Regions from separate parts of the Homo sapiens genome. Here region 1 is linked to region 2. The links come from fine-mapping of genetic effects on gene expression. A gene starts in region 2. The other region holds a variant in brackets. All regions are shown on one strand. Distances are between the middles of the regions. Region 1 overlaps ZNF438 (zinc finger protein 438). Region 2 holds the start of ZNF438 (zinc finger protein 438).

The links. PIP is the estimated chance that this variant, and not a neighbour inherited with it, causes the effect.
Region 1: its variant is fine-mapped to the expression of ZNF438 in blood mononuclear cells (TOPMed, PIP 0.92).

The regions. Positions count from the first base shown.
Region 1 is chr10:30,985,032-31,001,314 of GRCh38, reverse strand. All of the region lies in intron 1 of ZNF438 (zinc finger protein 438), which reads left to right. Among named protein-coding and RNA genes, the nearest start is that of ZNF438, 39 kb to the left of the region's middle. The variant T/C (reference allele first, on the strand shown) is at 7,822.
Region 2 is chr10:31,025,464-31,041,746 of GRCh38, reverse strand. ZNF438 (zinc finger protein 438) reads left to right here and starts at 9,882. Exons shown (of 7, transcript NM_001143768.2): 1 at 9,882-9,914. LOC105376481 (a long non-coding RNA gene) reads right to left here and starts at 9,239. Exons shown (of 3, transcript XR_001747410.3): 1 at 6,446-9,239. RefSeq lists silencers at 2,420-2,620, 9,661-10,220.

The DNA.
Region 1 (16,283 bases), 40 kb after region 2:
TTAGTATTTTATAGTTTGTAAATACATTCACATTATCAGCGATGAGTTCTACAGCTTTTAATAATGTCAAATATAAATGGTAGTTGTTTTTTTAAAACATTTTTTGAGTATCTACCATCTGCCAATGACTGAAATACAGAATTCCTTTAAGGAAGTCCTTGTCTGACAGGAAAGACAGACATCCATGGGCCTTTCATACAGCAAGATGAGTGTTGTAATCGTGTTGTAATGAGTGCAATGGGTTGTAGAGTGAATGGAGAAGCAGTTATTTCTTAAGAGGGCTGGTGAGATGAGATGACTGTTCTCTGGTAAGATAACTCTCGAACAGGACTTTAGAAGATGGGCAAGATTTTTGCAAGATGGATAGGAGAAAAGGGGAAAAGCATGAACAGAAAGGTAGAAGTGTAGAAATACATGATGTCTTCAGAAGCCACTAAAAGATTTTGGAGAGGGATATGACATGATTAGGTTTGTATTTGGAAAGAAAATTGAGATCAGTGATTATAACAAGGAAACACAAGAAAAGTTTTTTTTTTTTTTGCATGCTTTTCTATGTGACAATTTTGTGAGCATCCCCAGATTTTAAATTGTAACATAGATAGGACAGGCTTTACATTATGCACAGTTCTGGCCAGCCAACCATATGCCCTCTCATAGCTGTACATCAGAGTGTCCCTTCTAAAAGTCTGGGTGAACAGTGGGCTACAGGAATGAGGTCAGCTAAGAAGCCATTGCAGTGTTCCACATCACCACAGGAAGTGATGGCTTAATCAGGGCCATGATAACAGAAATGGATGGGAGGGAATATATTTGCCTATGTAGACTTGGTATCAGAGTTTTGTGGGGGTAGAGAGAAAAAGGAATTATACATCAGTGTTTCTCAGATTTTAATGTGCATGTGAATTGTCTAGGGATTTTGTTAAAAGGTAGATTTTGATTCAATAGGTCTGGCAGTGGGGCCTCAGATTCTGCTCCCAAGTGATGCCAACACTGTTAGGCCATGGTCCAGTGAATAATTAACAAGGACGAGATAACGTGGGTGTGAGACTCCGCTGGCTAGATGGTGATGTCATTATCTGAAATACCTGAAATGGGGAATACCAGAGAAAAGAAAGCTTGGGCAGGGGGATGGGGTGAAGTTTTTGTGGGACATTCAGGTATAAAAATTGTAGACAGCTGAAAGTTTGGATTCTAAGCTTGAGAGAAAAATCAAGCATAGAGACACAAATTTGGGAATAAGCATTTCGTTGCCGACATAAAAGTCATGAGAATGAGTGACATTACCTACAAAAAAGAGATAAAGTTAATATTAGAAAATATACCTATTCCTTCATCATTCAAAGGCCTCATCTTCTAAAAAGACAAATAAAGAAAATATACCTATTTGCTAAAATTTTAATGTCCATTTAAGTGACTATAAACCAGCAATGGGAAAGAAATTGGATAGGTAGCTTCCTCCCTATGAACAATCTCTAGGTGTAAATTGAGGGGAGGAGAAGTCTTCTTTGGAAACCCCCCCTTTTCCTTGGTAATGACCATAGATCAAGTTAAAAACGATTAAAGTATCTTATGAGAAATCATTCATATAAATAAATATGTGTAAAGAATCGTCAAAATGCCAGGCAGTCTTCTGACCTTAACATTAATAGCAAATGAAATGAATCCCTGAAACAGTGGAGCTTATGGGGGAGATTGACAAATGCTGTGTTAGGAAAGTATAGTGTCATGTGAGAGCACACACATCAGGAACACATGACTCAGTGTGGAGACAAGGGATGGCCTTCCTGAGGAAGTAGCATTAAGCTGAGACCAGAAGGCTGAGTGGTGGTGACCTACAAGAAGAAGAAGGGAAGGTCATAACAGTAATGACTTGGAGTGGAGAGGCCCTGCAGGTTGGAGAAGTTCAGTGTGGCTCACCATGGAGTGTCAGAGTGAGGGAGATGACTGCTGAGCTCCGAGAGGTGAACAGAGCCCCTGGTGAGGCCCACTCCTCTGGGACTTAGTAGAGAGAAGAGGGAGAAAATGATGTATTTTCCCAAGGAAAAACTGTTATTCTACTTTGGTATAGTTCAAACAACAGTCTTATGCATATGGTTTTACAAGGCTTTTATGGACTGGCCTAGTAATGACATGACTCATAGTAATGTTGTTTCTATAGGAAAAATGTTTTGGGCTTCAAAAGCTGTCTTACAATTTAACTTTCAGATTTTTTTTTTTCCATTTGGGAACCGCTTGGATAAGAGCACAATTCTAGTGTTTTTTGTTATTTCTGTTAAAAGTGTGCTTTCTCTGGTATGTATCTATGTGGCTACAGTGTTGATTTTCCGTCTTCTGATATGAATCAAAGCTATCATTGCACAGATGCAGTTGAAATGTTGTTTTATTTTCTTGACCAGATTCAGAAAGTGTATGGAAATAGAGAAATCTTTTTATAAATTGTTTAGTTTTCAAAGTGTTTGTTCTTCAAAGTTAAGGATTCCCTCTGTAAACTATATCATGGTATACTGTGTTATATACCATGAAAGTATGAAAAATGAAACTGCCATGAAAATTGTTATAAACAGAAAGTAAAAGAGATCGGTGTGTTTTCACTATTGAAGTCAAATAGAATGCAGAAGGTAAACAATAAAGGATAAAATACCTAGCTTTAAAAATACTTTAATAACCATGAGCTTATGATCATAATCGTCTTCATTACTAGCTATTGTTATCATTAGTAATACTTGATTTTTTTTTTTTTTTTTTTTTTTTTTTTTTTTTTTTTTTTTTTTTTTGAGACAGTCTCTCTCTGTCACCCAGGCTGGAGTGCAGGGGCGTGATCTCGGCTCACTGCAAGCTCCGCCTCTCGGGTTCACGCCATTCTCCTGCCTCAGCCTCCTGAGTAGCTGGGACTACAGGGGCCCGCCACCATGCCCGGCTAATTTTTTGTATTTTTCTTAGTAGAGACGGGGTTTCACTGTGTTAGCCAGGATGGTCTCAAACTCCTGACCTCATGATCCACCCGCCTCGGCCTCCCAAAGTGCTAGGATTACAGGCATGAGCCACTGCGCCCAGCCAATACTTGATATTTTAAAGCAAGAAACAGCAGCTGTTAAGGTCACTCCCTTTGTAAAATGGATCTATATGAGTTTCATTTTCTTTAATAAATGAAACTTTAGGCTGAAACTCTCAAATTCCCTTATCTCCAACATGCAAAGTTAATTTCATCCACATCTGTCTTGTGAAAGTATCTTTCTTTCTATATCAGTTAGAATGCTTTCAGCTGGTAAGTGACAGAGACCCAACTGAAAGTATCGTATGTAATAACTGCATTTTATTGTCTCATATAACTAGAAATCTGGAAGAAAGATAGTTTTTTTGTTGGCTTATATAGCAGCTAACTCTTATCATCAGACTCTCTGGCTCTGTCTTTTCATTCTACCATCCTGATAAGTTGGCTTTTGTCTTCAGACTTTTCCCCTCCTCATCTCAAGATGGCAGCTTTAACTCCAAGAATGACATACTCATATCAAAGCACCCATGACTGTAAGAAAAGAAGGTGTCTCTCTTATGTCTTTTTTTAAAATGAAGAAAACTTTCTTAGAAGCCTCCTAGAAAACATGACCTCATTAGCTAAAATTGCATCCTATACCCGTTTCTAAGCCAGTCAGTGGTGAGGGGTACGGAAGTCCTGTGTTTGGCTTAGACTAGTCAAGATTCATGGCCCTTCACTCCTCCCAAGGTAAAAAAAAAAAAAAAATAGGATTTTGTTATTCAGAAAGAAGGGAAGACTAGGTAGGCAACCACTAGTGTCTGCCGTATCTTCCAAGGCCAATTTATTTGCCTAGAGCTTTAATTCCTTTCTGCCTCTTAGAAGACTTTGTTAATAATTTCTTTTTGCGTTCATTTTCAGTCTTCTCATTCTTTTTCTTCAGGCTTATTGAAAGAAGAGTCTGCATATGCTGCCTTCATTTTTTTCCCCTCCCATTTATTCCTTAAATTCCTTGCAATCTGGATTTTGTTCCTCCTAATAAGAACCTTCCTTTCTATCAACAGCAATAACCACCTGATTCCCAAATCCTTTGCCAGTGTCTTTGTTTTCTGGATTTTCCATTCTCTGTTTCATTTGTTTGTACATTATTCTTTATTATTTCCTTCCGTCTGCTTGCTTAGGTTTAGTTTGCTTTTCTTTTTGTAGGTTCTGTCTTAAGGTGGAAGATTAGATTATCCACTTGAGATCTTTCTTTTTTAATATAGGCATTTATAGCTACAAATGTCTTTCTGGGTATTATTTTCTTTAGCTGTATCCAATAAATTTTGGTATGTTGAGTTTTAGTTCTCACTAATCTCAAGGTATTTTCTAATTTTCTCTCTGATTTCTTTGACCCATTGGTTATTTAGGAGTGTGGTTCCCTCCCATCTTTGTGAATTTCCTAAAATTCCTTCTGTTACTGATTTGTATTCTAATTGCATGCCATTGTTTCAGAGAACATTCTTTGTGTGATTAATCTCTTTAAATTATTGAAGGTTGTTTATGGCCTAGCATGTGGTCTCTTTTGGAAAATGTTTCATGTGCACTTAATAATGCATATTGCCTTGTTGAGTGGAGTGTTATATAGTTGTCTGTAGGTCTGGCTGTCTTACAGTGTTGTTCAAATCTTCTGTATTCTTGTTGATTTTCTTCCTGGTGGTTTTATCTAGTATTGAAAGAGGGAAGTCTCCAATTATTATTTTTCAATTGTGTATCCCTTCAACTGTCTTTTCTTCCTTCTCTTGTTAAGTGCATATATGCTTCTAATTGTTATACCTTCCTGATGGATTGACCCTTCTGTCATTATGAAGTGTTTCTCTTTATTTCTAGTATTATATTCTTGCTTTAAAATGTATTTTGCCTGATTCTTTTATGTTTACTGTTTGTATGGTATAGCTTTTACTTTCAACCTATTTGTATGATTGAACCTAAAATGTGTCTTCTGTAGATTTTATATAGTTGGGATCTTTGTTCTTTTTCTTTTATAAAAATACAGCCTGATAATCTTTCTTTTGATTAGATTGCTTCATCTGTTCACATTTAATGTGATTACTGATATAGTTGGATTTTTGTCTGCAGTTACGAATTTTGTTTTCTATAGGTCTCAGGTCTTTTTTGTTCTTTCCTTTCTTGCCTTCTTTTGAATTAAGTAGATATATTGTAGTGTGATGCTTTAATTCCTTTGCTACTTTTAAAAATATATATTTTGAGTTATTTTCTTAGTGGTTGCTCCAGGGTTTACAGTGTACATCCCGATTTATAAGAATTTCACTTCTGATTTATACTTACTTTCAGCAAAATAGACTTCCTCTGTTAGCTCCATTTCCTTCCCCAACTTTTTCTGCTATTATTGATGTACCTATTATGTCAAACCCAACAACACACTGTTGTAATTTTTACTTTATGTCTTTTGAAGAAGCTGAGACAAGGGAGAGCAAGTACGTATTTATAGTTAGTTGTATTGACCTCTCTATTTTTTATTTTCTTTACATATTTCTGCATATTTGAGTTAGCTCTGGGGTCATTTTCTTACTCCCGAAGAACTTTGTTCTCACCTGCTTCTTTTGTGCTGTTATTGTCTAAATGTATAGCAGTAAATGTTGTTAGCCCAATAATTAAATTATAGCTACAGTGTTTTATTGAATTATTCTTTAAATCAGTTAAGAGAAGAAAGGGGAAGAAATATGCAATTACAGTGTCTTTTGCAATAATGTACGTAATTTCCTTTACTGGCATGCTTTGTTTTTTGGGGCTTCCAATTACTGTTTGGTGTTACTTGCTTTTAGCCTGAAGAATTTCCTTTAGTATTTCTTGTGAAACAGATATTCTAGCAACAAATTTTCTGTCTTTATTTTTCTGGGGATGCCTTAATTTGACCTTTATTTTAAAAACACAGTATTGCTGGATATTAGAGTCATAATTCACAGTATTTTACTTTAGTACTTTGAATATTTAATTCCATTGCTTTCTGGCCTCCCTTGTTTCTAATGAGAAGTCAGCTGTTAATCGTATTGGGGGCTGCTTTGTACTTGTCTGGTCATTTTGCTCTTGCTGCTTTCAAGATTTTCTCCTTGTCTTTGGCTCTCAAGATTTTGCCTGTAATGTGTCTGGAAGTATATCTCTTTGTATTTATCCTATTTAGAATTTGTTGAGCTCCTTGGGGGATGTGTAGATTCATATTTCTTTTTCTTTTATCAAATTTGGAAAGATTTCAACCATTATTTATTTATTTTTTGTTCTTTTTCATTCATTTTTTTTTTTCCTCTCTCTGAGATAGGGTCTCACTCTCTCACCCAGGCTGGAGTATAGTGGCATGATCTCAGCTCACTGCAGGCTCTACCTCACTGCAGGCTTAAGCAGTCCTCCCACCTCAGCCTCCTGAGTAGCTGGAACTACAGGTGTGTTTCACCCTGCCTGGTTAATTTTTAATATTTTTTATAGAGACAGGGTCTCACCATGTTTCCTAGGCTGGTATCAAATTCCTGGGCTCAAGCAATCCTCCCACCTCGGCCTCCCAAGATGCTGGAGGTACAGATGTGAGCCGCCATGCCTAGCCTCATTATTTCTTTAAGTATTATTTCTGCCTCTTTTTTCTCCTAATGGCATCTGTTTTAGTCCATTTTCTGTTACTGTAACAGAATACCAAAGACCAATACCAATAAGGAAAAGAAATTTATTTCTTATGGTTCTGGAAGCTGAGAAGTCCAAGAGCATGGTGCGAGCCTCTGGTGAGGGCCTTCTTGCTGGTGGGAATTCTCTACAGAGTCCCAAGGTGGCACAGAGCATCACATGCTGAGAGGGCACATGAGTGAGAACAAAACTGGATTTTATAAACAGATGCACTCTTGTGATAGCTAGCCTACCTGCGTGATAACCCATTAATCCAGTAACTTATTAATCTACTAATCCATTCATGAGAGCAGAACCCTCATGACCCAGTCACCTCTTAAAAGTACTACTTCTCAATACTTCTGCATTCAGGACCAAGTTTCCAATACGGTGAACCTTTGGAGAACACATTTAAACCATAGCATTCCACCCTGGGCACCCAAAATTTATGTCCTTCTGGTGTTTAAGAATACATTCATTCCATCCCAGTAGCTCCAGAGTCTTCATTCATTCTATCATGCATTCAAAAGCCCAAAGTTCCAAGTCTCATGTAAATCAGATTTGAGTGAGACACATGGTGTTATTTGCCTTCAGGCAGATTCTTTTCAGCTGTGAGCCTGTTAAATCAAATAAGTTACCTACTTCCAAAATATAGTGGTGGAGCAGGCGTAGGACAGACATTGCCATTCCAAAAGGGAGGAACAGGAAAAAATTAAGGAGTAACAGATCCCATGTAAAACGAAAACCCAACAAGGAAAACAGCATTACATCTTACAGCTGGAGAATAATCTCCTTTGACTCCATGTCCTGCATCATGGGCACACGGGTGCAGGGTTGGGCCTCCAAGGCCTCAAGTGGTTCCACCCCGTGGCTTTACTATGCTCAGTCCATATGTCAGCCCTTGTAGGTTACAGTTGGGTGCCTGTGGCTTTCGCAGGTTGGACCTGCATGCTGGTGGTATAGTTCTGGGATCTCAGCAGCATTCCTGCTCCCACAGCTCCATTAGGCATTACTTTAGTGGGGACTCTGCTGCGGCCTTGCTTCTGGCTGCACTAGGCATTGCCCTACGAGGGGCTCTCAGCAATGAGTCTACCCTTGTTGACAAGTCTCTGCCAGGGCACCAGTCTTTTTGGTATATCCTTTGAAATCTAGGTGAAACTACCATAGCCCCACTTCTGTTACATTCTGTACAGCTGCAGAAT[T/C]AGCACCTTGTGGATGCCACCAAAATTTATAGCTTGTGCCTTCCAGAGTGGTGAGTTGAGCCACACTTGCTGCTACTTGGGTCATGACTGGGGCAGCCACAGAGCATTGCTGTGGGGTGCAGGGAGCAGAGTCCTGAGGCAGTCCTGGACAGCGGGCTGTGCAGAATGCCATGGATGCCATGGGCTCCCACAAAACCATTCTGCACTCCTAGGCCTCTGGGCCTCTGATGGGAGGAGCAGCTTTGAAGATGTGTGAAATGCCTTTTGGAGTCTTTCTCTAATTGTCCTGATGAATAGCCTCTGGGTCCCTTGTATCAATATGAATCTCTTTAGCAAATGGTTGCTAGGCCACATTCTTGGTTTCCTTTCCTAAACAAGCTTTTTAAATTCTACATAGCCAGCCTGAGGAGAGTTTTCCAAATCTTTCCACTTTGCTTTTCATTTGATTATAAATTCTGTCTTTGTCATCCCTTTGCTCCCAAATCTCACTGTAAGTAGCAAAAAGTAACCACACAGTATCTTGAATGTTTTGCTGCTAGAAATTTCTTCCACTCGATATGCTAGTTCATCACTCTCAAGTCCAGCATTCCACAAACCCCTAGGGCATGGACATAGCCTTGAGGCGTGTCAGGCTGTTTGCTGCTTTGTGACAAGTGTGGCCTTTATTCCAAGTTCTAGTACCTTGCTCCTCATTTCCATCTGAGGCCTCTTCAGAATGACCTTTACATATTTCTATCAACATTCTGGTCATGAGCACTTAAGTAATCTCTAAGAAGATTCAGGCTGGGCACGGTGGCTCACGCCTGTAATCCCTGCACTGTGGGAGGCCAAGGCAGGCAGATCACCTGAGGTTTGGTGTTTGAGACCAGCCTGGCCAACATGGCAGAACCCCTCCTCTAATAAAAATACAAAAATTAGTGGGGCTTGGTGGCGCATGCCTGTAATCCCAGCTACTTGGGAGGCTGAGGCAGGAGAATCACTTGAACCTGGAAGGTAGAGGTTGCAGTGAGCTGAGATTGCACCATTGCACTCCAACTTGGGCGACAGAGCAAGACTGTCTTAAAAAAAAAAAAAAAAGAAGATTCAGAGTTTCTCTAGTCATCTTCAGAACCTTCACCAGAATCACCCTTAATGCTCCATTTATGGCAATGCAGGTTTTTTTCTATCCAGCTCCTCCACAGTCTTCCAGCTTCTACCCGTTACCCAGTTCCAAAGCCACTTCTTCATTTTCAGATATTATAGCAAAAATCCTACGTCTTGGTACCAATTTTATGTCTCAGTCTGTTTCTGTTGCTATAACAGAATACCAAAAAATAAATTTATTTCTTACAGTGTATAGGCTGGGAAGTCCAAGAGTAAGGTACTAACATCTGGCAAGGGTCTTGCAGATGGCAAGAAGTTTGTTTTGCCCCATGTTCAGCCATAGATTAGTAGCTTGGATTATTCATTCCCAGTCACTCCTGAGCGAAGCAAGCCTTGAGCATGCCCACAGTCTAGTAAACTGCCAGGGATACTTTCATATTAAAGCCTGGCTTCCTAGGAGTTGATCTTGGGGCAGAAGAGCTTATTGTTCAGCCACTGTTTGATCAGAGGTTATACTTCAGCCCCCGAGTGACAGTGAAGCTTCCTTTTTTAATTGATCTGTGTGGCTTGTGCCCATATCAAGCTCTGATTGCTCAAGTGGATGCAGCCTCCCACTTGGGCACAGCCTTCCTGACCTCTGTGTTTACTGTGAGCTGGCTGTCTCTTTTTCTAGTTCTGTTAAACTTCTGATAGTCCTAATTTGTTGGTTGCTGCTTGTATCCTGGGGCCATGAGCACCTTCTTAACTATGTCAATTCCCTCAGACAGAGCAGAGGAACTTTTTGTCCTTAAGGGCTGCTGTCTCCAGTCTGCATCTCCCCACAGGTAGAACCTTGCACCACTGCACAGAAACTGGGGGCAGGAATAGTGACTCACTTCTTCCAGAGTGACACCCCTGCTATAAAAGGGTGTTGGGAGCATGGGCATTAGCCACTTGTCTTCTTGGCTTGCCCCTATGGATATGGAACCTTTGCCCCACCAGCAAGTTGATCCAGGAGTGATAGAAGCCCAGTGTTTTCAGCCTGCTGCACCTAGAGTAGAACTTTTGCCCCACAAATGAGGGCTGGCTAGAGTAAGGAAGCCCTGGCCCTCTCAGCTGTGCCTCTACAGAATAGAAACTCTACCATAGAGGGCTAGGGAAAATGAACAGTGCCAGTGGCTTGTTCTACCAGGGTGAAAATGCAGCCCCAGCTTGGGAGCTGAGGGGAAAAGGAGCCCCCATATTCTTGACCGGACCTTCTGGACTAGAGCTCTCGAGTAAGTAAAACAGACTAAGACATAAGTCAGAGCTTGGAGGTGCAGGGGAGGTAAGGTGGGAGCAGGTCATGGCTCAAATGCCACTGACAGGCTCTTACCAAGATTTAGAATATTTTCTTGAATGCATGTTTCTCCATTTATTATATACTCTTCAAACAATTTCCAGTTTAAGTGGTTGTTTTAAACAATTTTTTTTCCAGTTAAATTGTTTTTGTTGGGGAGAAATTCTATGGCACTCTTCATTCCTCCATTCTGGAAGTTGTCTCTTGGTTTTGCTCATTAAAAAAAAAAAGATATATCTTCAATCTCTCTTAATCTATACAGGTTACTTTATAGATTCTTAATCTTTACGTTCCTTCTCCATCCCTTTAAGTTTCATACAGTTTACCTGTTGAAGAACCTGGGAGGTTTGATCTGTAGAATTTCCCACATTCTGGATTTTAATGTGTGCGTATTTGTGGTGTAGATCCACACGTTTCTCTGACCTCTATAATTCCTATAAATTGGCAGCTGTCCATGAACTGGATCAGACTCAGATTTGATTCCTTTGGCAGTTCTATACATAGAATTTAATGAAGTTTAGGATACCTCTGAATCACCTGGTGGGCTTGTAATAATAAAATGCAGATTACTGGGTCCTATGCCCAAACCTTCTGATTCAGGAGATTGGAGGTTGGACCTGAGGGTTTGTATTTCTGGCAAGTATCTGAGTGAGGCTGAGGCTGCTGGTCTGGATAACCTACTGTCAATGTTTGGTTGCATCTTTTTTTGTGATCTTAGCAGCCATTTATGCATATTATTTGTATCTATTTGTTCATTAAGGTTTGAAAAATAGTAACATTCTAATTCTTTTTATTTTTTTCATTTATTCATTGGAATATTTTTATAAAGAGATACATGTCCTTATTTCTTATTCAGTTACCCAGAGTTCTCAAAAGACAGGTAACATAAATTCTTGATTTTTTCCCTTTGATATATTTCTTAAGATAATGAATTGGTTCTCTATCATCTCTTAAAGGTGACCAGTTTTTTAAGAATATTATTATGAACTTTTAGAATTTAACGTATTAGTTAATTCATTTCAAGTATTACCATCACTGAAGCTCAAATTATTCCATCTTTGGCCAATGGAAGCCTCTTAAACTTAGCTCCTGAGTCCTAGATTCAGCTATTTCTCTTAGAAGCCCTACTGTTTAAGGGGTGATCATGTTTTCTCTCAGCCCTTTCTGTAGACAGAGATCAGAAGTATGTGCACATATTGAAGATAAAATAAAAATATTTCATAAGTTTATATTGGTGTTTCCAATTCAAACTTGAGACTATGGTGGAGATGATAGTGTGTTTAAATCTTCTTTCTGTATCTCTTTCCTCTGTTTTCAAGGATATGAGTGCTTATAGAACTGGAAAGTCCTACAATTATGTATTTTCATCCTATAGTGCACACACAACAGTCTCAGAATGACAACACCACAATACTACTCAAAACATTAAAATCCATATTTTTGCATACATTCTCGCCCCCTTAATCACATTTAGGACTGGAGATGTCTTCTGAGACTTTAGTTTATTCAGCAACCATTTAGAGCATCTTCTCTGTCTCACACTCACTGCTAGAAAGGGGATACAAAGAGATGTAAGATATGTCCCTGTTCTCTGAAAGCTAAGGGTCAGGGTTATTGGGTTATGTATCATTCTGGTATAGGAAGATGTGGCCATAGAATCTGGGATTCTGTTCTTCTTTAAAAGAAGTTAATGCTAATGTTAATTCTTCTTTACTTGCATGTTTCTTAAAATAAAACCCTTTCTCTCTACTCTTATCAGGGAGCAGCTTCCTTTTGGTGGAGCTCCTTAAATACTTTCTAATCTCCCTTACGTAGTATATTATTAGTCAGGGTTCTCCAGAGAAACAGAGAGAGAACAAGAGAAAGATATAGAGTTTATTTTAAGGAATTGGCTCACAGGATTTTGGGAGTTGGCAAATCAAACATGTAGAATACAGCAGCAGGCTATATACTTAAGTAAGAGTTGGTAATGGTCTTGAGTGTAAAAATTGCAAAATAGGCTAGTAGGCTGGAAACTCAGCATTTCTATGTTACCATCTTGATGTAGACTTGCCTCTTTTTCAGGTAACTTTTATCTTAGCTGTTGAGGCCTTCATCTGATTGAATAAGGCCCACCACAGTATGGAGTCTGCTTTATTTCAAGTCAACTAATTATAAATGTTAATTACATCCACAGAGACCTTCACACAACATCTAGATTAGTGTTATACCAAACAGCTGGCCATCATAACCTATCCAAAGTGACTCATAAAATTAACTGTCACATCTAGGTTAACTGTTTATTGCCAAAATTGATATTCTTTCTAAAAAACTGTAAACTTATATAATTTTATTGCTTGACTGACAAATTGGTTTCATCATATTGGCGAACCTATAAAATAGTCCTATTAAGAAATTATTTTAAAAATAAAGTTATTTCTAAAACATATTAACATATAGCTATATTCATTAAAGCAAAACTGTTTTAACATTAAAAATAGCGTAAATATAATTCTCAGTAAAAGCTTACATTATTTAGTTTCTTAGCTATAATTTGTACTAATATATTTATTAGGTACAATAATTATAATCTTGTTATCTCTCTCTTTCTCTGGAGAACCCTGACTAATAATATACTACATAAGGGAGATTAGAAAGTACTAAGGAGCTCCACAGAATACAGCTCTCTGTATTTTCCTGGAAAAAAAATTTTAAAAATACGGTTGTATTTTATCTTTAATTGCTTCATAAAATTGTAGTCTTTTTCAGGTTGCATTTTGTGATTGCTACATTTGAAATTATTGATTTTTTTCAAGTTACTGTTTTCTATATAAATTGTGATTTTTAAATTTGAGAATGTAATCTCTATGTCGATAATGAGGTACCTGGTAAGTTCAAAGCAAATTCTATTAAATTTTATTTTGTAATAGTTTAATATGTAAATATTCTAGCACATACATTTTCAAAGCTACTATTAAAAAAAACAGTAAACTCGATTTACAGCACCTTTATTCAATAAAATTTTTATGACAAACTTGTCAAATAAATTGTGTCTATTATGGAAATCTTTTAAACATCTTAACCAAATTTAGATGCTGCTAAATTGTAGGCATTCTCAAGTTCATTTTATTCTAGTACATAATATAAACTTATTTAAGTAAAAAAGTAAGTTCGCCATAAAAATTAAATCTTGAATAAAAGATTTCTGTCTTAGTTTGGGCTGCTCTCTCAAAATATGACATACTGGGTGGCTTAAACAACAATTCATTTCTCCCGGTTCGGAAGGCTGGAAAGTCAAAGATCAAGGCACCAGCAGATCAGTTTCTGGTGAGGGCCTGCTTCTTGGTTTGCAGACCTGGTTTGATCTTCTCATTATGTCCTCACATGGCCCTTCCTGGGTGTGTGCACTTGGATGGGGGGTGGTGGGTGGGGAGAGAGAGAGAGATCTGTTTCTTTTTATAACAGCATTAATCTCATCAGGAGGGCCCCACCAACATGACCTAATCTAACGCTAATTAAAGGCACTACCTCTGAATACCATCACATTGGGTATTAGGGCTTCAGCATAAGAATTTAAGGTGACACAAACGTTTAGTCCATAGCTATTTTCAACTGACTTTGAATGTAATGTTTGAATGAAAATCATCCGTTATGTTGATGATTTTGCAAAGTCTAAGCCTCAAAGAATTCTAAGATAGATAACAAAAAGAAAACATGGACTATCATGCTGGAATTTTTTTTTTTTAATTCAGCATCAGCTTTGTCACAAATATTTTAGTTTTTTTTTTTTTTTTGAGACAGGGGTGTACTCTGTTGCCCAGGCTGAAGTGCAATGGTGTGATCACAGCTTACTTCAGCCTTGACCACCCAAGCTCAAGCAATCCTCCCATCTCGTCCTCCCAAAATGTTGGGATTGCAGGTGTGAGCCACCACACCCAGCCTTAGTTCAATTTTTTTAACCCTGTGTGTGTGTATAAACGTTTGTAAATTTTAATTGGTAGAATGTCACATCTTTTGTGGATTCAGTTGTAAAATATGTTTCCCCCAATTTTGATTGGTAATATATTGCAGTTTTGGGCACAGCTGTGAATTATATGTGAACCACAGCCAAGTCCAAGTTTATTTCTGTTTCACCATTTTTTAAATTTAGTAAGAACATTGTTCTTTCTATGATGCTGTACTCAACCAAGGTTTGTAATTGTGTTATCACTGTAAAAACAAATAGAATTGACCCTTATTATTCACAGATTTTGTTTTCATGAATTCGTCTGCTTACTACAGATTGAGCATCTCTGATCTAAAATCAGAAATGCTCTAAAATCCTAAACTTTTTGAGTGCCAACATGATGCTCAACACAATCCTCAAGGGTCATGCGCAAATGAAATACTCATGGGAGCATTTTGGATTTCAGATTTTTGGATTAGGGATACTCAATAAGTATATAATGCAAATGTTTCAAAATTTTTAAAAACTCTGAATTCAAAACACTTCCGACCCCAAACATTTCAGGGTAAGGGATACTGAACCTATAAAATTTATTTGTAACTGCAAAATCAATACTCATGACACTAGGCATTCAACTGAGTGCATGACTGCAAATGGTACAGAATGGTGAAAAATTTGGATTGCTCAACACATTCCTAGTTGACAAGCTGATTTCCTTCAGCTCTCATACGGTAAACAAGTCTCCTTTTTGTGGTTTATATAGTGCCATGATTTTTGCTTTTTTAGGCTTATGATTTCTGTGTTTAAAATGACTACCCAGTGTGGAACTGAAGTGCTGTATATTGCGCCTAAGTGCAAGAAGGCTGTGATGTGCCTTAAGGAGAAAATGCATGTGATAGATAAACTTATAGTGCTGTTGGCTATGAGTTCAGTGTTAGTGACTCAACAGTGAACAGCCATACATTGCTTAACAACAGGGTTAAATTCTGAGAAATGTATCATTAGGTGATTTTGTCATTGTGAAAGTATCATAGAGTGTACTGATATGAATCTATAGCTTACTATACACGTAGGCTATTTGGTATAGCCTCTTGTTCCTGGGCTACAAACCTGTACAGTGTGTTACTATACTGAATTCGTAGGCAATTGTAACACAATAGTAAATATTTATTTATCTAAACATAGAAAATGTACAGTGAAAATATAGCTTGATAATCTTATGGGACCACCTCCATCATATATGCAGTCTGTTGTTGACTGACACATCATGCAGTGGATGACTATATATTAATAAGGTATCTTGAAACAGAAATATACATAAAATGAGGTTATGTTTGATCAGCTAATTAAAATGTAATCAGAGGCTCTCAGGAGCTCTCAGGAACCCAACCCTGAATTTCCCTTATGAGTAAACAGTTTGGTATTCCCTAATTCAGTGTTCATGGTGACTTCATAGAACTTAACTACTGTGAATAAGGAGAACCAACGGTAATTTTGTCTTTGTTGTTGAACTTCTAAACTGATTTTTAAGTAGCAATTAAAGCAATGTCAAGTGTTTCATATTCTACAGAATGAACTTCCAAAAGCTTTACTTTGGTTTCATGAATTAGATGAAATCATCAAACCATTATTGGAATTAACTGATTTTTCTGGTTGGTACATCTCCTGATGCTGACAGAAAGCTGGCAACATTTAACTGTGAGTTTTTCTGTTAATGGAGCCAACCAGTTTTCACTTTACTTTGATGATGTAAAAGAGACGCTTTAGAATCAGAACTAAGTGCATTTTTTTAAAAAGTCATTGGATCTAGATGAAAAGTCATGCTTTAGAGAATAATACGTAAAACACTTTCTCTGTCCTGTCTGCTTTCATTAAATCCGTGTCTTTAAGCTAGCCATGAGCAGGGAGCAGTATTCAGTATTTCTTCTACCTTCATTCAAGACTGGAGGAGTTAGCTGTCCCTACCTGCTCCTGCCTAGGTATACTTTTTCTGCATGGTGCCTGGGTGCTGTCTTTAAGAATGAAGTATCAGTTACAGTACATTTAGTACATTTAGAAATGGGTTACTGCTAGGTGTCTTAAAGATTTAAGCAAGTTGCGAAATTGACAACTGGCTTCATTGCACATGCATCTCAC
Region 2 (16,283 bases):
ATGCAAAGAAATGGGGATCAGGGATTTGGGGATGCAGATATGAGGTTGCCTGAAGGACAGAGTCATGGTGACAGAGGAAGCTGAGGAGAGAGAGAGAAGGATTGGAGCCAAACTTTCTGTGCCAAATTAAGGACTTAATACTTTAGTCTGTTCGCAAAGGGTTTTAAGCGGAGAAATGACATAACCAGCTTTAAGATTACAGCAGGTCAGACTCCCTAAGAAACGGTCTCTGAAACTCTGTGATTTGCATGCCGGAATTCATATGGGGAATAATTTTGGGGACAATATCTGTAAGGAAGCGAAGAGAAGCAGGGAGGGAAGAAGAAACACTGGGCTGCCATGCAATATATATGTTTTTTTTTTTTCCTGGTTCCCATTCCCCGTCCTTGGGGTTGTATACAAACCCATAAACAATGGGGAAGAGCCTCTGGTCTTTGGTGCTGGTGGCTGCCACGCCTGGTCATCCTAGCCCACAGGCCCATGTAGTCCATTCACAGACCTGAAGTCTCATGCCTCTGAGTCAGATCTGGCCTCAGGATTGTCTGTCCAGAATCCTAACCTGGGCTTTCTGAAGTCCAGCTCTCCTGGGCACACATACTTCTTATGGTTCTGTATACAAGTGAGTCATTGACAAAACCTGCAGTGTGTGTGAACCCACTGGTAACTCATTTTTTTGAGACAGGGTCTCACTCTGTCGCTAATTTTTAACAAATTATTTTTCTAGAGAGGAGATCTGGCTACATTGGCTATGCTGGTCTCCAATTCCTGGCCTCAAGTGATCCTCCTACCTTAGCCTTCCAATGTGCTGGGATTATGGGCATGAGCCACTGCACCCAGACATGCAATGGTTCTTCAAGTATGGATCCTGGACCAACAGCAGCACCTGAGAAATGCTTTTAAAGTTTGTCAGGTAGCCCTAATTTACTGTTTTTATATCTAGAATCTCCACCTTACAATCTTGTTAACAACCTCCACCTCCTGGGCTTAAGCAATTCTCCTGCCTCAGCCTCCTGAGTAGCTGGGATTACAGGCACACGCCACCACACATGGCTAATTTTTATATTTTGAGTAGAGACGGGGTTTCACCATGTTGGCCAGGCTGGTCTCGAACTCCTGACCTCAAATAATCCACCTCCCTCAGCCGCCCAAAGTCCTAGGATTACATGTGTGAGCCACCACATCCAGCCTAAACTCTACTAAAAGTAAGTTTCTAGTTAATTCTTAAGAGAAATTACCAATCTAATCTCTCAACTAGCTGAGAAAGGATTCTTGGAGCAGGTAGAATTTAAGGAGTTCAAGGGCAGAATCTTCTGACCCTTCTCCTTCCTACAGGCTGGGGGATCACCAGAGCTAGGCTGAAATCCTGGTGATTTTGGGAATGTAGATCATGCATGACCAAGCAACAGGATGGAAGGAGCCTGAGGCCCAGGCCTCACCCTGGGCAAACTGATCCTGGACCACCTATATCCAGACATTCTTAAATAAAATAAGCTTGAATCATCTTGTTTAGGCCTGTTGTCTTAGTGTTCTCTCATTCACTAAGAAGTTATCCCAACTAACATTAATAATACCAATAGTAGCACATATTGTATGACTAGGCAAGAGACTCTCACCATAATAACAGAAGAATTAGATACCCACATTCTGTGCAGCCTTGGAGTTCAGTTTTAAATGTAATCAGAAAGTGACTGCTATTACCATTTGTGGCATAAAATAAAATGTGAACATGATAGCTAACAAACATTCACCTCCCTTCTCTCATGTGTTATGTGAGAAGAGAGGGCCCCAGGGAAAGAAACACATGGGACTCTTAGCTAGGTAGGACTGTGTGTTCTGTGAGTGCCATCAACACAACATTATACATGCAGGGCCACACTGGAAACCCAATTTCCTATTTTACACTTCAACTTTATTAAGTATTTTTCTCTTTTGTTTAAATAGCAAAAGTTGACACCTTAACAGGTAATTCCTAATGCACAAAAAGTTCCTTCTCCAGAAGATAGATATAAAAATTGTGAAAAATCTATTCATAGGGGCAAATGTAACTATTAAAAATCATGAATTCATGTACAACATTAATGAATTTCTGGGCAAAGCTGTTCATTTTGCAGGTTTTATGATCATTCTTAAGCTGGAGGCTTAAATGATCAAGCTCTTCACTTAAGAGTCATCATAAACTCAAGGGCCTTCAGGAGCCAGGCAGATAGGTTAAATAATACCCAGTTGGGGTTACAGGAAAATGTGGAACATCTGTGCCTTTGAACCAGGCAGCCTCATTCCAATAATAAATGCCCTGAGTGAGTGGGGGAACAACACTGTCAGAGCTTCTGATTTTTCAGAAAAAGCCAAAATACTTGTGATATGGTTAGGTTTTGTGTTCCTACCCAAATCTTATCTTGAATTATAATCCCCATGTGTCAAGGGAGAGACCAGGTAGAGGTAATGGAATCATGGGGACAGTTTCCCTCATGCTGTCCTCCTGATAGTGGGTGAGTTCTCACGAGATCTGATGGTTTTATAAAGGGCTCTTCCCCTTCGTTCAGCACTTCTTCCTGCTGCTTATGAAGAAGGTTCTTGCTTCCCCTTCTCTTTCTGCCATGACTGTAAGTTTTCTGAGGCCTCCCCAGCCATGCAGAACTGTGAGTCAATTAAGCCTCTTTCCTTTATACATTACCCAGTCTCAGGCAGTTCTTTATAGCATCCTGAAAATGTACTAATACAACTTGCTTTTTAAATGTGTTTTCTGATATTCATTTCAAAATTTAAAAAACACAATATGAATCAGACCAAACACCTCTGAGAGCTGAGTGCCACCTTCCACTTAAACTCTAAATGCAATTAGACTTGAGTTTGCAAAATCAGATTTTAAAATTTTACTTTGTCATTAATATAACTGCCTTAATGGATTAAAAATGGCCTGAACCAAACATGAAGGATGGAAAATAAATGACAATTTGTCAAGCAGAGAAGGAACCTGCTGAATTAATTGCCAAGGGGAGAAATTACAGGCCTTTAGAGGCAGATAGAACTTAACTGGGATAAACTTCAGAGAAGTTGTGACTTTGTTTTCACAGGCCATTAAGGTCTTGGGGACATCCATGAGTTTTGGCGACAACAGTAATGACTTTTGACTCCTAGATTCTACCCACCCATCACCCCATTGGGTGGATGACCTTCCTTCTTCAACTGGATTAAAGAAATTTGTAAAATTCCTTTTTATTGTGCCAGAAACTGTGCTTGGTATTAAGAACACAAAGTTGAGTAAATCGGTGTCTGTCTTCAAAGGATTCATAGCTGAGGGGGGGCAAAAGAAGCATAAACAATTATAATATGTGTTACTCAATCTAAGGTGCTACCAATTATAAGAAACCATTAGTTTTTTTTACCTCCTAAAATTAAACTATGATATTCTTCAATTTCAAGATGAATTCTAATTTCAGAGATACTTCAATGTTAAAAAAATAAGTGTGTTTAAGTGAAGAAATACTGTATGCGTTATAGGAGAAGTTGTGTTGAAGAACAGGGAGAAGAAATGATCTGACCACCTGGGCAAAGCAGGGAGATACAGTAAAGTTTGTAAGGGGGAGTCAGATTACTTTAAGCAATGTAACTATCTTAGTACGCTTGGGCTGAGGCTTAAACAATGGAATTTATTTTCTTACAGTTCTAGAGGCTGAAAAGTTCAATATCAATCAAGATCTTGCAGATTTGGTTCCTTGCTGAAGGCCTTCTTCCTGGCTTGCAGATGAGTGCCTTCTCACTGTGTCCTCACATTGTGGCGAGAGAGAACTCTGCTTCCTCTTTTTCTTATAAGAACACCAATCCTATTGGATTAGGGCCTCGTCCTTATGACCTTATTTAATCTCACCTCCTTAGTTCATTTGTCTTACTATAATAAAATACTATAGGTAATTTATAAACAAATTTACTTAGACACAGTTCTGGAGGCTGGGAAGTCTAAGATCAAGGCAGCAGCAGACTGCCTTGTCTGGTGAGGGCTGCTCTCTGCTTCCAAGATGGTGCCATGATGTTGCATCCTCCAGAGGGGAGAAACACTGTGTCCTCACATGGCAGACAAGAAAGGATGAACTCCCTCTATCATGCCTTTTGATAAGGCACCTAATCCCATTCACAAGGGCTCCACCCTCATGACTTAATCATCTCCTAAAGGTGGCTCCTCTTAATGCTATTACATTGGTTATTGAGTTTCAACACACATTTGGGAGGGGACACCAATATCTAAAGCATAGGACCTTCTAAAAACTCTGTCTCCAAATCCAGTCACACTGGGAGTTAGGACTTCAACACACAAACTGGGGGGTTGGGGGCAGAAGAGACACCATTCAGTCCACAGCAGTGACCCATGGCTTTGGGTCTCACTTTTTTCCCTCATATGCAAAATAAGATAATAATAGTAGCTACCTCATAGAGTTGTGAAGATTAAAAGATTTCATATGGAGTGCTCTGTGACGTCTTAGATCTAGTACCAGTTTAGTAAAGGCTGGCTGTTATCAGCAGAGGTAATTAATGATAGAATTTGAACTCCAAGAATCAGTAGACCTTCGCCAAGGGCTAAGAAAGCAAGCAGATTCCAGGGAAGAACAGAATGCCTAAAGGACTGTTTCTGGAACATTCTGCCTGTCTGCTATGATGTCTTGATGTAGTTGGCGAGGTTTTTTTCCCTTGAGGAATTAAAAATCTTTTTTTTTTTTTTTTTGAGACAAAGTGTCACTCTGTCACCCAGGCTGGAGTGCAGTGGCATAATTATGGCTCACTGCAACTTCAACCTTCCTAGGTTCAAGTGATCCTCCTGCCTCCACCTTCCAAGTAACTGGAACCACAGGTGCACACCATCATGCCCGGCTAATTTTTGTATTTTTTGTAGAGATGGGGTTTGCCCAGGCTGGTCTTGAACTCCCGGTCTCAAGCTATCTGCCTGCCTAGGACTCTCAAAGTGCTGGGATTACAGGCATGATCACCGTGCCTGGCCAGAAATCTTTTTGGTATCTTTTCTCCTGTACCTTCTTCCCTGTTCTCCAATCCCAATACACGCACAAGGACAGTTTGGTTCTTTCCGTTTTACAGTCAGAAGCATGCTCCAGGCCCTGTACTCAAATCAAGAACTGGGCTTCTCAGAACAAGGACACAGGTTCCTTGTCTTTCCATTTCCCTCCTCGCTTCCCTCCACCCCTTCTTGTTGGGGACAGCCTTTGTCTAACATCCTTTGTTTAAGAGAATTAATTGCTATCCCCCAGTGGCTGTCAGTGTCTTTCAGGAGACCTCATGTAAATAAGGCTCCAGGTGGCCTGCTCTGATTTCCGAGTTACCAGAGGGATAACATCCTGTTAGGACATTCATCAAGGATAACATTTAGTGAGGCCCAGAGCAGTGACTCATGCCTGTAATCCCAGCACTCTGGGAGGCCCAGGCGAGAGGATTGCTTGAGGCTAGGAGTTCGAGACCAGTCTGGGAAACACAGCCAGATGTCATCTCTATGAAAAGTAAAAATAACCAGATGTGGTTGTGCATGCCTGCAGTCCCAGCTACTCAGGAGGTTGAGGTGGGAGAATCCCTTGAGCCTAGGAGTTCAAGGTTATAGTGAGCTATGGTCTTTCCATTGTACTCCAGCCTGGGCAAGAGCCTGTCTCAAAAATAAATAAGTAATATTTAGTAAGTCTAACCCCATTTGAGGCTTGCAGAAGTTACTGGACTTGCCATAAAGTACCCAGTTAATAACAGAGCTGGCCCTGTTCAGTGCTTTACTATGTTATGCTGCATTGCCATTCAAAATGACTTGTCTCCTAAAGGAATTTTCTCATCAGAATTATTTCTATTGACAGTATCCCCTTTTTAGAAAATAACTAGCATCTTGAGTAAGAAAGCTACCCAGTCTTTGAATTCGAGTTCATCCATCCATTCACCACGCATTCCTCTACACATATTAACTGATAATCTATTTGGGATACTACATGTAGAGGATTCGAGGTTAAGACTCACATTTCCCCTATTCTCACAGAGCTTACAGTCTAGGAGAAGAAGCAATTAAAATAATTTGCAATGCAGAGAGCCAAAGCTGCTTAGGGAAGGCTTCTCAGAGTCAGTTCCTGCAAAGTAGAGACCTAAAGGATTGGGGAGAATTAGCTAAGTAAAATGATGAGGGAAGGGAGGTGATAAAATGAGATGAAATACTGTGCAAACTGTGTAACTGCAGACTTGTAAGACTGTTATTAAACAGACATCCCTCCAGAGCTCTCCAATCTCTGTCCCAGGTCTTCTTCCAGCAAAGTCTCTATCTCTGCTCCTTTGGCAGAATAAGCCCCCTTTTAACCTGTGTAACTCTTGTTTTATAGATGGTTATTTTGTTGTTATTAGTATATTCTTGGGTTTGAGTTGGAGACAAGGGCCTATCTCTAATCAGGAGTGACCTGATTTTTATGTCAATTACCTGGGAAGAGATCATCAAACCAGATCCTGGGACTTAAGAGAGGAATGTAAGGGGATTGCAGAATGGGATTTTGTTTCCCTTGGTCTTGATCCTGAAGGATAAATGATGCATGTTAGTTAGGCAAGGCGTGGTTATAATAGTGTTTTTCAAATTTTTTTTGATTGAAATCCATAGTATGAAATACATTTAACGTTGCAACCCAGAATACACACATGTGGCTGAAAGTTTCCCCTAATTTGTGTTGGGAAAAAAATACCCTTATTACATGTGATACAATCTGATATTTTGTATTTTGGATTCTGATTAGTGTTTTTCTGAGTAGCTACCCTTTAACCGATCACAAAATCAACTTACTGGGTCATGATGACCACCTTAAAAAATCAAATAAAAGCAGTCATGCAAAGATGGGATGGAAAACAGTGAAGAAGATACCCATACACTGTGGTCAGTATTTTAGAGCTAAGTCCATATTTTGGACTTCCTAAGTCCCTCTGTTTCTTGCATAATTTGTGCCTGGTTGTATGAAACTTGAGACAGATTAGTGGTTATGGCTGTGGGTTCTGAAGTATGAAGTCTGGAATCTTGACTGTGTTACTCAGCAGCTGTGTGACATGGGCACTTAACCTACTTACCTTGTGTTTAAAATGGGGATAGTAACAGTTCTTATCTAGTTGCAAGAATTCAAGGAAATAATGCAATGCTTGGCACAGAATCAATACTCAGGAAATATTAGGAATTATATTTCTTTCACTTTTATTTTCCCCATACATTAAGTACTCTGTTTTGTCTTAATTCAGCTTTTCTTAGCTTGCTAAGCAGGACCAAGGGAAGAGATGTGTGTATTGACATAGAGGGCTCTGGAAGCCAGATTGCTATGGGCAGCAGATATCAAAGAGAAAGAATCACAAGGGGGAACTGAAAGCCCAAGGGCCATAGTGGAGGGCCTCAGTGCTTCCAGTGCTAAACCTCCAAGGTCCAGGGTTTTATTTTCTTTAAAAAAGCAGATCCTCTCTTTAATAACAACACTTTTGGCCCTAGCTTCTCACTTCCTGTCTAGGTCAAATTCCAGTTTGTTACAGAAAGTTGACTGAACGTGAGTGGTATTTTCCCACAAATTTCTACTTGACATTCCTTGAGACTGTGATCCTTGCTTGGGTACCTTTACTGTTGGCCATCTTTTGTTCACTGCGTTTACTTTTTTCCTGCATCTAGCAAAACAACGACTTTTTTTTTTGAATACCTGAGATTTCAAGAGAAAGTATACTGAACAATACGATGAGAAGACTATATTCTACAATGCCATCTTTCAGAGGCAAAAGTATCTATAGTAAAAACATTTGATACATTTGGTGTATGCTTCTTACCCATTTCCACTCCAAAAAATAACAGATGACATGTACCTGTGAAACACTCCCATAAGGTATACCTAGAAACTCACTTAAAAAAATTACGATTTTTAGAAATGATATATATAAAACATTTTATAAGCATGTAAACTATTAACAATTTAAAGGTTTCTTAAAATTGTTTTGCAAGGAAAAACATAAATATCACTGTTTTAAAAATATGCAGGACTTTAAAAAATGTTAATTTTTCTATACCTCTGCTCTACAGAAAAACCTTATTGTTACAATTATGGTACAGCCTTTACAAATTTCTTTTACATCATTTGATAATAACTAATATTCAGATAAAATATACAAATATTTTTTCAAATCAGAACATTTAAAAACACTGACGTAGATTTTTCTGGAATAATAAACGTTTTTATTTTTAACCAGCTCAGATCTCGAATTAAAGCCTAATATTCCCATCATCACTCTTTCCTGTAAAAATAAGACAGCACTTTCAATGAGAGTGGAAATAAACCATTGTTTCAGGTTTTACTTACAACTGGAGCTGCCTTGCAAAATCCCTGCCCTGGCCATCTGCCGTGGTTCCAAATAAGTTTGTAAAAGTGAATCTTGCCATTTTCAATACTTCCTCCTTTGGGTCTATTTATTCCGAAGTCTGTTTTTCTCATTCTTTTAATTTTTTTCCCCCCAAGACGGATTTGTCTGAGACACTTTTTTGCCATAACATTTGTTTTTTCTGCTTACGAGAGTGTAAGAATTCCACAAGCCAAATGTTAATATTTTGTTGTCAGTTCTTTAAGCCTTCATTTTTTCCGTCTATCGAGCCCTTTTTTTTAACCAGAACTCATTGCTTCTGAGAGTATAAAAGAGCAAAGAGGCCGGGCGCGGCGGCTCACACCTGTAATCCCAGCACCTTGAGAGGCCGAGGCGGGCGGATCACGAGGTCAAGAGATGGAGACCATCCTGGCCAACATGGTGAAACCCTGTCTCTACTAAAACATAAAAATTAGCCGGCTGTGGTGGCGCGCGCCTGTAATCCCAGCTACTCAGGAGGCTGAGGCAAGAAAATCGTTTGAACCCGGGAGGCAGGGGGTACTGTGAGTTGAGATCGCGCCACTGCACTCCAGCCTGGGAGACAGAGAAACACTCTGTCTCAAAAAAAAAAAAAAAAAAAAGTGGGGAGCAGAGAGCCGGACTTGGACACGGGAAGGTATCGTGACATGAGTGGGTCGGGGGCTGGAAAGTTTGCCCAGGCGAAGAAGTGAACATGTTTATCCGGATCACCGTTTGTTAAATGAACAGCAACCCATAGGTAGCTTCACCGAGCCGAAACGGGAAAGGCGGCAGGCAAGGGAGAAGCTAAAATCTGCAAGAAACGGGCTGGGCTGGAGGCGGCGCCAGGGCAAGAAGGGCAGGTGGGGGCCCGCGGGAGCCGGGAGCCAGGGGCGGGAGCCGGAAGGGCGGGACCCAGGGGCAAGGCCTAAGTGGGCGTGGGAGGGGCATAGTCAAGAGATGGGCGGGGACTGCTCGGGGTCTGGGCGGAGTCTAGCGGGAGCCGCGTCGAGCCGGGGAGGAGCGAGGGACCCTGGGAGAGCTGTCTTTTCAGGGCTGAGGACCCGCCAGCACCTGATGGAGAGCAAATGGCTGTTTCCACACGTGGAGAACTTTTAACGAACACGTGAGGAAGGCGGGCAATGTCTGTGGAAAAACTACCTCACAACCCAGGCGTCTTACTCCAGCCCCCAGGGCGACAGCTTGTTTACAGTATTTCTGAAGGTCTCCGTCCCCTTTTGTCGGCCCCTCCTCCTCCTCTAACCCCGACTTCAGGCTTTGAGTGAGGCTTTGGTAGAGCAGTCGCCGCCGCAGGCGCCCCGGTCGGCGAAGCCCACAGGCATGCGGGCGCAGAGGCCGTCTGCGCCTGCGCGGGGTGTCTGCTACGGGGAGGTGCGTGGAGCTCGAGGGCGTGGAGCTCGGGGGCGTGTCTCCCGCCGCGGCGCCGGGGCGGGGCGAGGGCGGAGCCTGGGGGCCCAGCGGCCCGCGCCCCGTGGCTTGACCTCCCCGACTGCTGGGCCCGTGACGTCACCCCGCTGTGACGCGCACGCTGTAGGAAAACTGTAAGTTTACGAGGATTCCTGCAGCTCCTAGGGCTTGCGGGGCCCGCTGGCAGCTGGCAGTCCCGGCGGTGGTGGTGGCTCTGGGGGCGTCAGTTCCTTGGGGAGTCGCCGATTGTGGCGAAGGGACAGGTGTCTGCTCAGAGTGGCAGCGCGCCCTGCTGGGCGGTAGGGACCTGGGGTGCGGGAGGCGAGGCCGCGCCCCGTGGGGCCGGGCCAGCACCTTTTCCCCTGGGGCGGGGCGCGTCTCCGAGCCTGGGAGCGAGGCCTTAGAAGGGGCGGAAAGTCCAAATGGAGAGTCCCTTTTTTTCTTCCGTGATAAAGGGACTTAGATTCCTTTTCTTCCCCCTCTCAGCCTTGGAGTTTGACATGTTAAGTAGGGGATGGAAGCTTCCTCTCAGAGAATAGGAATCCTATGTCCTGGCCGTTGGGATCCCACAAGTGACCAAGTCATCGTGGACACATTTATAAGATAACCAGTTGCTGCCTCAGTTTTCTTTTTTGTGTAAAAGGGAGGTACAGCAGCCTCTGGCCTCCCTAATGGTTGTTCCCACAGCACTAGGAACACGTGAGATAACACAAGTGTGTAAATTTGCTAGGAGAAAGCTTATACACAGACACTTGGTTATTCTGAGGAATGTGGTAGCCACTGGCTATTTGACCAGGAATCTTGTAGAAGGGGAACTTTTTCACTGTTTTGCCTCCCCCCGACAACCTTCCCTCCATCTGATTCTATACCACACTGGAGCCTGTTGGGTGATCGAACTGTTGTCACTAAACTTGATAGAATGGGGATCCCAAGAAATAACAGGTATCGTTAGCACGGTACTCTTGGCAATTACAATGCCCCCGTTGTCTGGGTTTTGCAGAGGAAGCTTTCAGTGTGCTGGAACTAGCACATTATAGACAACACAGACTCACTGAGTTTTAAGGATTGCTGTATCGATTTGGAATATCCAATCATCGTATCTGACTGCTTGAATATTTTGGTCAAGGGGTACTACATTATCGATTAGTTATTACTAGACTATAATGCCTCTCAAACTCCGGGACTAGTAGTCTTCAGGAACTTTGAAGGGAAGAATACTGTGCACACTTCAGGGTGTATTTATACAGGAGCTCGAGAGTTCACATTTCTGTAAATTCATTTCAGGAGTGTGATATCTTTTCATCCAGGTAGGAAGAGCCTTTGAATCAGAAAGCAGGGCTTCTAATTTTTGTTCTATTCGTTAACTAGCTTCGTGTCCAAGGACAAGTCACGCAAACTTGGAACTTTGTTTTTCTTATCTAAAATGAGAGCCGATGGTTTATCTGTTTGTTGGTTTTTCCAGGATCAAATGAGATCACGAGAGTGCAAATGAAAGGCTAAGTGTGCTATTGTTATTAGGAGATTCGCATTGGTCCCCTAGCCTGGATGAGATGTGAGTCAGAAATCTCTGGAAATAGAGCAGCAAAGAAGACAGCCTCCAACCTAGCAGGGCTCATATTGCAGTGGGAAATAGACAACGAACAATACGTGCATAATGTAATTTCAGGTAGTCATAAGTGCAGTGAAGGGAAGGAAGAAAGGAGGACAGTGGGGGAACAGGGAAGGTTGTTTTTGGTGGGATCTGTCAGGAAAAGCCATTCAAAGGCAGGGACACTTGAAGTGTGAGGGAAAGAGCCTGAGGTAAGAACATTTCAGAGAGGAATAATTAATAGCAATGAACACTTAAAAAAAGTAGAGCTTACCATATGTAAGGCACTATTCTGAACACTAAATTAAATTTTTACAAGTCTTTTGATGTAACCTAGTATCTCCCTTTCATAGATGAGGCAACTGACACACAGAAAGGTTAAGAATTTGCCAAAGTTGCACAGCTAAAACGTGGTAGAGACTATTTGAACGTGGGCAGTCTGACTTCAGAGTCCAGGCTCCAGGTGACTGTATTTTCGGCCTCACAGCAGGAACAGCACAGGACAATGCTCTGAGGTGGTCCAGACACAGTGAGAGTGTTTAGAGCACAGCCGGGAACGGGGAAAGTAGTGGCCAATGATGGTCAAGGGCCAGGCAGGCCGTGGGGTCCCTTGTAGGCTGTGGTGAAGTAAAGATGTTGTTCTAACTGTGATGGAAAACCATTGGAAGGTTTGCATCAAGGGACTGGTGTCTGATTTAAGTTTTATTGTATGGAGAATTAACTGTAGATTAGAGTGGGTCGGATGGAGTGAAAATCGGGAGAAAGCTGCTGTGCCCTGCAGGTGAAATGATGGTGGTTTGGGCTGGGGGAGGTTAGTTGTGGAGATGATGGTAGGCGGTAGAATTGGTGATACGTTTTGAAGGTAGAGCTGACGGGAAACGAGCTGATGTGGAATTTGAAGAAAAGGGAGAAGTGATGATTTTTTAGGTTTAGGCTGGAACAACTAGAAGTATAGTGGTGCTGTTTACTGAGGAAAATTACAAATTTAGTTTTGCACAAGTTCTAAATGCCTGTTAGACATAGTCATAACAACAGTGCTAGTAAAAATAGTATTATGTAAGCGTAAACTGAGTCCCAGGCAGGGTTTTAAGTACTTTAACCTATATTAATTCATTTAATCATCATAAGAATTATATGTGCAAGGAACCATTATTGTCCCCATTTTACAGCACGAGAAAATAGAGGCAAAAAGAGGTTATAAGTGACTTGTCTGAAGTCACCCAGCTGGTGAGTGATGTAGCTAGGATTCAAACCTAAGCATTGTGGCTTTGGAGTCCATGCATTGAATCCCTGTAACCACCTCCGAGTGAACATGTTGAGTATGCATGCCTGTGAATATGGAACTCAGGGGAGTGGTCAGGGTTGGAGATACCCATTTATTTTTCTGAAGAGAAAGCATGCTTTTGTTTTTCATCTAAGCTTTGGTTGTCTGTGGGAGAAAGATTATAGGCAGTGGGACTGTGCTAACTGGTCTTTGATTACGACCTGACTGGGTTCATGCAGCCAGTATCTGGTATTCCCCACTGTAGGTTCCGTAGGGGCAAGGTCTGTCTCTTTGACTTCTCTATCTCTAGTCCCTAATCCAGTGCCTGCTGTGTAGTAGATGTTAGGGATGACTTTATATAATGGGCATTTGGTTAGGTTTTGGAAGTTCAGAGATGAATAAAACAGTTCTTTACCTTAGAGGAGCAGGGTATGAGGAAAAACCTGTGGGAATAAAATTAGAGTAGACTAAATGCATAAATACATGCCGATTAGTTCATTTGGGTTTTCTGCACCCTCCCCTCCCCAGCTTCCATGACTTGTGAGATGGGGCATGAAAAGGGCAAAGGGGCAAAAGAATGCCTAAGCTGTTGCAGGATGAAGTTGAGGCTCCCCAAGAGTCCTTTTCAACAAAAGAATTACTCAAAATCATGCATATTTTACTATATTTGCATTAGCTTTATTTGGCAATGATAGAATTTTTACCAAATGAAATAAATTCTGATATTTGACTGTCCTTTTGAAGTGATGAGTTTTTCCAGTTCTATTACCTCAGTGTTGACAGGGCTCACCAGAGAAATAAGGGAGTTGGCTTGAAATGTTGCAGCTTGCATAATAGAGGGTGATGGAGGGGTTGGGTGAAGTATTCAGGCAGGTTTCCACCGGTTTAAGTGTGTCATGCCAAAGTTCCACCTATTGGAATAAGTTTGAGTTTCTTTGCTGACCATCTCTAACATTGACATGTATTTTTTTTTTGTCATAGAAAGGGGATCTGGTGATATATATTGTAGGTGGAATTGCAGATTACATCTCGTATAGCTGGATCATTGTAGAACATGGAGACTAGAAAAATACAAACAAAAAAAGATGTGTCTTGTTCCCGTAGATCTTTCATGGCATACCATAACCTCAACAGTTGTCACAATTTTGTTACTTCCTAACATGAGTATTTCAAATTTAAACCATGTAAGAATTATATAAAATTGCACTGCCGTAGATTTTATGGTTAATTTCAGAATTTTTAAAAATATATAAAATTATATTTTGTTTTAAGCTTTCATTGGGAAAGTATCTAAATAACCAGATCTATGATTACTCTAAACAGAAGCCCTCTACTAACGTAAATGTAGAGGGGTGCCATCTCATTTTGCAGTTCACAACGTTTTAAATCTGCTCTTGTAGCTTCCCTACATTTAATGGAGTTGAAATGATTAGTCTTTATTTACACCACATTTGCAGTTAGTTTCCCAGGAACATCAGATACCCATATATGGTATAAAGTAAAATTGCATAGTCAATAGCCTATTGATGCTCAGGTGTTATTGACTTTTAAGTTCAGGCACAGTGAGGGCAGGTTGATGGTTATTTAATTGTGTCAGGTAGCTCCCAGCAGAGGGGGAGTGATGGTAAGTTCTATCTGAAAACAACAGGACCCTCTGTTTCTAACACTGACCATGCGAAATATAACATCCTAGATAGTAAATAAAATTCAGATTCCTTTTAAAATTTACATTTGCACAAGCAAATTTTAAACTATTTTATGAGTACTTTTATATATATGAAGATTTATTGTTGAAAACAGTGTGTCTAGCCCAGTGATAGTACATACTGAGCATTTAAATATAATTCTTTTTTTAATTAAATTTATTTTTTAAATTATACTTTAAGTTCTAGGGTACATGAGCACAACATGCAGGTTTGTTACATATGTATACATGTCCCATGTTGGTGTGCTGCACCCATTAACTCGTCATTTACATTAGGTATGTCTCCTAATGCTATCCCTTCCCCCTCCCCCGACCCCACGACAGGCACTGGTATGTGATGGTCCCCACCCTGTGTCCAAGTGTTCTCATTGTTCAATTCCCACCTGTGAGTGAGAACATGTGGTGTGTGGTTTTCTGTCCTTGTGAAAGTTTGCTCAGAATGATGGTTTCCAGCTTCATCCATGTCTCTACAAAGGACATGAACTCATCCTTTTTTTATGGCTGCATAGTATTCCATGGTGTATATGTGCCACATTTTCTTAATCCAGTCTATCATTGATGGACATTTGGGTTGGTTCCAAGTCTTTGCTATTGTGAATAGTGCCACAATAAACATACGTGTGCATGTCTCTTTATGGCAGCATGATTTATAGTCCTTTGGGTATATACCCAGTCATGGGATGGCTGGGCCAAATGGTATTTCTAGTTCTAGATCCTTGAGGAATCGCCACACTGTCTTCCACAGTGTTTGAACTAGTTTACAGTCCCACCAACAATGTAAAAGTGTTCCTATTTCTCCACATCCTCTCCAGCACCTGTTGTTTCCTGACTTTTTAATGATCGCCAATCTAACTGGTGTGAAATGGTATCTCATTGTGGTTTTGATTTGCATTTCTCTGATGGCCAGTGATGATGAGCATTTTTTCATGTGTCTGTTGGCTGCATAAATGTCTTCTTTTGAGAAGTGTCTGTTCATATCCTTTGCACACTTGTTGATGGGGTTGTTTGATTTTTTCTTGTAAATTTGTTTAAGTTCTTTGTAGATTGTGGATATTAGCCCTTTGTCAGATGGGTAGATTGCAAAAATTTTCTCCCATTCTGTAGGTTGCCTGTTCACTCTTTATGGTAGTTTCTTTTGCTGTGCAGAAGCTCTTTAGTTTAATTAGATCCCATTTGTCAGTTTTGGCTTTTGTTGCCATTGCTTTTGGTGTTTTAGACATGAAGTCCTTGCCCATGCCTATGTCCTGAATGGTATTGCCTAGGTTTTCTTCCAGGGTTTTTATGGTTTTAGGTCTAACATGTAAGTCTTTAATCCATCTTGAATTAATTTTGGTATAAAGTGTAAGGAAGGAATCCAGTTTCAGCTTTCTCAATATGGCTAGCCAGTTTTCCCAGCACCGTTTATTAAATAGGGAATCCTTTCCCCATTTCTTGTTTTTGTCAAAATTCTACTTCTTGCAATCACTTTTATTTTTGCATTATTATCTTCAACTCATATATATTTGTAGTAGTAGCTGGATGCTTGTTTGTGTACTTTACACTCTAAATGTTTGAATATATTTAAATAATTTATATAAGTAGCACTTATTTTTGCTTCATTTCACATTTGGTTGCTTAAAAATTAAAATCTTTAGGTTTGATTTTAACACATTACACTAATGGCTAATAATTAGTAAGTCTAGGTGGAGACTAAGCTTTAGTGACAGGTTAACCAAGTTTTAACCCCAAAAGAACACCCAGAAGAAAATTCTTAGGGAATAGTAAGCAAAACCAGTATGTCGATGAAAGGAATAATTTAACCATAACTACGTAGCTATTATTCTTCAAGTTGTTACTATTCTACAGGGAGTATTTTCTTATTTGGTTCTTCAATTGCAAAGCTATTAATTTCAGTCTGCATTGCAAGCCACCAAGCAGTGTGAAATAAATACTGGAAGATGATACTG